Linked DNA regions of Homo sapiens. The protein of the gene in region 2 interacts with the protein of the main gene of each other region in a pairwise test. Each region holds a gene or a part of one and is shown on either strand. Other genes may lie near its edges.

Region 1 (3,752 bases), on a different chromosome or scaffold from region 2:
GAATAGGTGGGTCCTGAGATACCATTTGAAGCAAATTGTCCACCTGTAGGTACAAAAGTAAAAGACTGAAAATATTTACTAAATCAAAGAGATTTTTGCCCTAGGAAGGTTAACTAATAAGAGACTTTTTTTCCTAGGGTTTAAAAAATGTTAAATCACATTTTATGACAGTCAATTTTATATCCTAATGGAATCTCTTCTGGTAGTGAGAGAAGTTCCAGATTTTTCGTTGTAAAAATAGTCATATAATGGTCTAATATCCAGTTCTGTCACATTTTCTCATTACCTATCCCTCACAGGACTTTCCCTCAAGTCCCTACCTGTCCCCTCTGCCCCACACTCTGGCCCGGAGCCAGAGGATTGGCTCTGGGGCAGCAGGAACCTGTTGTTTTAGGAGATGGTGACCTTCGAGGATGTGGCTGTGCACTTCACCAAGACAGAATGGACTGGCCTTTCTCCTGCCCAGAGGGCCCTGTACAGAAGTGTGATGTTGGAGAATTTTGGGAACCTGACTGCTTTGGGTAAGGCCATTTTCCTCCTAGGACTCAGATCTGTACTTTTCCAGTTTCCTTCCTTCTTTTACAGCCTGGGGGGAGGAGTGTGGAGTGGAGAGGAGAGGTTGTCTCTTGTGTCCTCCACTGAGTGACTGCAGAGCTGAGGCTCAGTGACCAACTTCAAAGATTGCTGGGTAGGGAGAGGTCTTGGGTCACTTTGGTCTCCCAATGAAGGGAATTACTGTCCCCTGGTAAGAGTATGTTCCATCTTCCAAGAGGCTCTGCACAGTAAGGAATAAGTAGTAGTTGTTGTCTGGGGAAGGGCATGTCCCCTTCCCTGTGTTTGCTCATGCCTTGTGGATCTCACTGACTTACTTATCCTTGAGTGTTTTTTTTAGGAAGAAGTCACAAATGCTCAGTTTCCTGTTGATCGGAATCTCTTTGGCCTTCTCCAGTCGAGAACCCTCTTCTGTGGGTCTTATTCTTACTGAGACTCCTGGGGTTTTCCTTCTTTTGACACAGCAGATACAGGGCTGAAAAGTACCATTTTCTTCCTGTTTTCAGGGTACCCAGTTCCCAAACCTGCACTGATCTCACTTTTGGAGAGAGGGGACATGGCTTGGGGCCTGGAAGCACAGGATGATCCCCCAGCAGAGAGGACCAAAAACGTCTGTAAAGGTAGGTGAGGCAGATTTAGAACCAACAATTGTAGCGTTTTATGGAGCACTGTATTTTAAAATGAATCATGCTGGGCAGGATTTAAATAAAATAGATGATTTCACCTAATAGGTAAAATATGAAACGTTTCTCACCAATCTTAACTCTTACCAACATGTAATCACTCAGTACGTCTCATCTGCAATCCTTGAATCCATTGTTCCTTTCTGAGTTTCAACATTGCCTACCTTAGTTGTCCTCCTTGGTTGGGATGGATTTATTCAGGAGCAGTTTTTGAGCAACTTGCCATGTGCTGAACGTTGTTTAAGAAGTTCTGGCAGGTACAAGTTATGGAGACAGATGTAAAAAGCGAAAAAGAAAAGTATTAAGTGCTGTTGGGAGTGGGACGGAGAATGTGAAGGTAAAATGGGCCAGATCTTCCCAAAAGTTGGCCATAAATGGGGAGAGCTGAGTCAGATAACACTAGGAAGTCATGGCATGGGAGGAGCTTTTTGAATTCATAGGAATTCAGAGCTGAGCACAGGGCGTGAGGTGCCTTTAGAATAGGCAAGTGGATGGCTAGAGCAGGCCATTGAGAAGGTGGGTGGAGAGTCTGAGATAAAAGGCAGGTCTGAAACAGTACTCTAACACAGCTGGGTTGAAACGATCCCCAGGAAGAAAAAATGAAGGCTGAATCTTAACCATTAAGGGATATTTAATTTCAGTGAGAGAAGGAAGAGAAAGTAGACAGTCAAATAGATGGGGGCCACCAAGAGCAAACAGTGAAATTGAAGGCAGAGGCAGGAGTTTCAGTGCAGGTGGTTTGCAGAGAGCAAATACGTGGAAAATAATGAAGCTAGCACAGCACTTCAGCCTCTTATTCTAAGAATCTGAAAAAGAATCATCAAGACAATTGAGAACCTGTTGGTTTGTTCTCACACGCTTCCTCTGTCTGGTGATTATTCTTTTTCAGACTCTTGGTTACCTTGTTTACTTCAATCTCAGATTACTCTCCTCTGAACATTCTCCTTCGGAGTTCCCTTACTCCTTTAACTCACACTCATAGGATGAACTTGATTAACCATCACATGAGTCCCAGGTAACCCACATTAATGTTAAAACCAAGCCCATCATTTCATATAAAATGGATTGACTTTAACTCATTTAAAATGTCATCCAATCTTTTGGAACACAAATGCCATTTTATGGGCTGTTTGTCTCCTTTTTGCTGATAGGAGAAAGAATACTCTCAGTCTGGGTGTGTCTAAGTAAACTGTTCATCCCTTTTCAAATAGAGAGTCTAGGACAGTAGTTTCTCTGCATGTTTGAGGTTCAGCAGTTTTAGGGCGTTTCCTCATCGTCTATAGTCCATGTGTGGTTCTGCAGTTAAGAACCTCTGAACTAGGTAATCTTACAACATATTGGGAATAATACTCTCTAAGCACTTCTGTGATTTTCTTTCTCTCTGTCTTGCCACAACCCAGTGTCTGTAATGTTCAGTGTCTTAAGTCTTTTGGGACATCTGCAGGGTATGAGTTTTTAAAAAGAACAACAATTCATCCTTTGCCTTTGCTTTCTGATACTGTTCTGTTTCACTTTCTGATTCTAAGTCTTGCCAGCCCCGATGTCACTACTTGTTCTTAAGACCTGTGCCTTCTTTGGCATTTTGTAGGCTGTAAGTAGCATCAATTCAAAAGATACTAGCTCATGCCAGGGATGACCAGACATCATTCAAATATTAGAGTAGAAAAGCTTAGGAAGCAGTCTCGTGTGTTGTGTCCACTGATACCCTGTTCCACCTCAATGTTCTCTGCCTGTGTGATATTTGGCACTTTCACTTTAACAGCCTTTTCTTCCCAGCATGCTGATGTGAAAGTTGAAATGATCTCTTTTAAAGCCTTATCATTTTCAATGCTCTATTATTTCTAGTATAGTTCTCAGGTGGCATTATTTGTGTTTTCTATCTCTTATGTCAGATGTTGAGACCAACATTGACAGTGAGTCCACATTAATCCAGGGAATTTCTGAAGAAAGAGATGGGATGATGTCACATGGTCAGCTGAAGAGTGTCCCTCAGAGAACTGACTTCCCAGAAACACGTAATGTGGAAAAGCACCAGGACATCCCCACAGTGAAAAATATCCAAGGAAAGGTTCCAAGAATCCCCTGTGCAAGGAAACCTTTCATATGTGAGGAGTGTGGGAAATCCTTCAGCTACTTTTCTTACTATGCTAGACACCAGAGAATCCACACTGGGGAGAAACCTTTTGAGTGTAGTGAGTGTGGAAAAGCCTTTAATGGTAATTCTTCGTTAATTCGGCACCAGAGGATTCACACTGGAGAGAGACCCTATCAGTGTGAGGAGTGTGGGCGAGCCTTTAATGATAATGCAAATCTGATCAGGCATCAGAGAATCCACAGTGGGGACAGACCCTATTACTGTACAGAGTGTGGGAATAGTTTCACGAGTAGTTCCGAGTTTGTTATACATCAGAGAATCCACACTGGGGAGAAACCCTATGAGTGTAATGAGTGTGGCAAAGCTTTTGTTGGTAATTCACCCCTACTTCGGCATCAGAAAATCCACACTGGAGAGAAACC
Region 2 (3,752 bases):
CTACAAGGACCTTGTTCTTCTTTCTTTTGGGGGGAAAGGGCCTACAGACAAACAATGAACTAGATGAACAAATATACGAGATGATTTCAGGTGACAATAAATGCTATGAAGAAAACACAAAAGTGAAGTGTCATAGAGATTGACTTGAAAGGAAAAGCTGCTTTAGGCTGAATGGTCCGAGAAGGTATTTCTTCAGAGATGACAATTTGCAGTAAATGTAAATGAATAGCATTACATCAGAGAGAAGAGAGGAAAGAGAATGCCCTGTCTAAGTGATAGGCGATCAGAACTAGCTCAATATACAAGAAAAAAATCTGGCAAGCCCTACCTTAACCAAGTGATGAAATTTAACATAATCAGTGATATCACATGGATATCATGTACCCCTTGATATACTGTGACAGGAAAAGTATGCCATTTCTGTGGTATTCCCTCCAGGAACCCATAATTCCAGTCTAATCATGAGAAAAGCAACAAACAAAATGAGATTGGTGAACATCCTAAATGACACCTGGGCAGTATTCCTCAAGACCATTAACATCATGGAAAACAGGAGATGGACTGACAAGCTGTCACAGAACAGAGAAGATTGGGGAGACATAACTAAATGCAGTGTGGTACTGAGGATTAGATCCTGGAACAGAAAAAACATTCATGAAAAACTGCTGAAATCCAAATAACCATTATTAATAGTTAATAGCAATGCATCAGTATCCATTTCTTTGTAGTGGCAAATGTAAGATACAGCATTAACAATGGAGAAAACTGGAAAAAAGGTAAATGGGAACTCTCTGTACCACCTTTGCAACTTTTCTGTAAATCTAAAATTACTCCCAAATAAAAGCTTAAGTTAAAAAAAACTAATTCAAGGGACATTTACAATAGTTCATTCACTTCATATACAACATTTCATATAATCTTTATAAAAACTCATGAGAGATGTGATTATTCCCATTTTAAAACTCAAAACACTAAGGTTTCAAGAGACTAAGTTTCTTAGCCAAGTGGCAGAGCTAGATGGTGGTATTTCTTGTATTGTAACCCACGTCAGTATAACTTCCAAGCCCTTATCCTAAAAACTATGTGACATTATTTCCTACATAGGAAAAATTTTTTTCTTTTTTCTTTTTTTATGACAGAGTCGCGCTCTGTCGCCGAGGCTGGAGTACAGTGGCGCGATCTAGGCTCACTGCAAGCTCCGCCTCCTGGGTTTATGCAGTTCTCCTGCCTCGGCCTCCTGAGTAGCTGAGACTACAGGCACCCACCACCACACCCAGCTAATTTTTTGTATTTTTAATAGGGACGGGGTTTCATCATGCTAGCCAGGATGGTCTCGATCTTCTGACCTTGTGATCCGCCCGCCTCGGCCTCCCAAAGTGGAAAAATTTCTTATTTGCTACACAGAATGAGGACTTGTATTTGTATAATATCATGTAGCTTATAAAGTGCTTCTATACAGTATCTTACTGATCATGACAATAGTCTTTGAGGGAATGAGGCTGCTATTATTAGTCCTATTTTAACTAAACAGGTGTTTGGTGCAAGGAGATAGAAACTAGTAAAGGAACAGAGATCTAAACCTAAGTCTACTGATTGCTAACCTTATGCCTTTTCACAAGACTCTGCTACTCTGGGAATAATGTTGCATGAGGTTAATAAATGGCTTGTGCTACTATATTTTTAGTTCCTTCCCTTCTGAAAATAAACACTGTCTGCTACTTCACTCAGGCTTTGGAGAGATTAACTTCGTTACAAAATGTAGGGAGGACAGTTAGAAGTAGCTATCAACCCACTGTTCATAGTCACTAATCACCCAAGAAAAGACACTATGGTTTTCTTGGCTTGCTACGATTTCCCCCTTGTATATGTGGTCTGGGTTTTAGTTTTAGTTCTGTCATTAGCACTGTGAGCTAGGTAACTCATCTCTTTCGGTGTCTGTCTTTCTATCTGTAAAAATGGGATAATGATACTTCTGCCGACCCTCTCACAAGATTGAGTACATAGCACATCAGAAATGGAATATAAGTGGAAAATAGAGAAAAGGTGTAGAAAGAATACGGAATTGTTTTATTCCTTACATCTGTCAAACTTGGTGTACTGTTTCTGTACTGATAATCTTAGTGATTTTTGTATTTCCCACAACGTTGTACAAGCTCTACCTACAGTCATCAGTGTAACTTAGAGGATAAATAGTTTAATGTTTAGAAAGGATGCACAGCTCCTCAGATGAGTAATAATTAAAAGTATAAATATTTAGAAAAAGGTAAGGCAAATTCTCTGATATTACTGTACAATCACAACTTAATACATAATTCTCTCTGAAGTGACCTATACATTATGCTTCTTTATTTAGAAGGACAGTGTCAAGGTTTAGTTTGTTTCTGAAAGGTGAAAAACTTGAACATAGATTATAATCAAGAAGCTAAAGTTAAAATTATTTCTTTTGCTCTAATGGTAGCAATGTGTAATCTGATGGTAAATTGTAGTAACTTTAATGCCATGGGGACTTTGAAATGTTAAAAATACAAATGTATTTTGAATTTGGAGCCTATGCTTTGTCATCTCTGCCCAAGGCAATTACAGAATCCATGAGCCCAAATAGCAAGTCCTTGACGCCTGCGAAAAAGGACTAGATCAGTGAACATAACAAATATAACGTTACAGCAGTGGACAGGGGCAAAGGGGCAGGTGGCAGAGTTTATGTAAGGAAAACTGACAAGGCATGACCATTTCTCCCAAAGGACATCAAGCATGATAAACTTAATGTAGTAAATAGGCACACAGATAAAAGAGAAATTAATGACTGTCACCTCCTAAATGTATGTTGTGGTAGTGGTGTTTGTAGTTGTTTTATTTTAACTGATGATACCATAGGTTCAAAGGTTCTTGTTTGTCCATTTACCCTAAAATTTTACATAAAGTCAAAATAGGCATTAAACAGTAAAGTTAATCAGGGATTTCTTTGGATGGAGAAGTATAAAGAATTCAGCTCCTCAAGGATTGATACTTATTTATAATCTTTTTTTAAATGCTCCAGAAGAAAGCTCACAGGAGATTTCCAAGTTAAGAAGACATTAAATGTTTCCAGCTGACGAAGAAACACACAGATGGGATTTAAAAAGACCTTAAAGTCTGTGCAAGTGGGTAGAGAAGTAACATATGAGTTTTAACCCTGGCAAGAGAACAAAATATATTTAGGAATATTATTTTAAAAAATACAAGTGGAGGGCTTTAAGCTATCAGTTAATTAATTCAACCATTCCTTCAACCTGTACTATGTTGAGCCTCTCCTATGCTGAGCCTCGACTTTGCATCAAGGCAGTGTGCTAAATGTTGGAAATGCAAAGATAAAGATCAGGAGGGGAGACAAATAAACACATTTACATGGGAACTAAAATAGAGTTACCCACAGCATAGAGGACAGTCTCTCAGTTTGAAGGGATTAAATAAAATTTCTCAGAGAATGTGAATCTTTTTTCCAGCTTTATTGAGGTACAATTAACAAATAAAAATTGTGTAGATTCAAGGTGTACTATATGATGCTTTCATATACATATACATTGTGTAATGATTACTACAATCATATTAATCAATATATCCATCACCACACAGTTACCCTTTGCGTTTGTGTGTATGTGCTGTGAGAACATGTAAGATCTATTCTCTTAGCAAATTTCAAGTAAGCAATACATTATTATTAACTGTCTTCACCATGCTGTGAGTTAGGTCCCTAGAACTTACTCATCTTATAA

The links. Proteins that work in one complex are often made in the same cells at the same time.
Region 1: the proteins of CTNNA3 (region 2) and ZNF19 interact in binary tests that used the Homo sapiens proteins (3 or more experiments, as listed by UniProt).

Annotation. Positions count from the first base shown.
Region 1 is NC_000016.10:71,475,648-71,479,399, reverse strand, and holds part of ZNF19 (zinc finger protein 19), read left to right. Parts: intron 1-394; coding exon 395-521; intron 522-1,058; coding exon 1,059-1,172; intron 1,173-3,127; coding exon 3,128-3,752. UniProt on the Homo sapiens protein: May be involved in transcriptional regulation.
Region 2 is NC_000010.11:67,220,461-67,224,212, forward strand, and holds part of CTNNA3 (catenin alpha-3), read right to left. Parts: intron 1-3,752. UniProt on the Homo sapiens protein: May be involved in formation of stretch-resistant cell-cell adhesion complexes.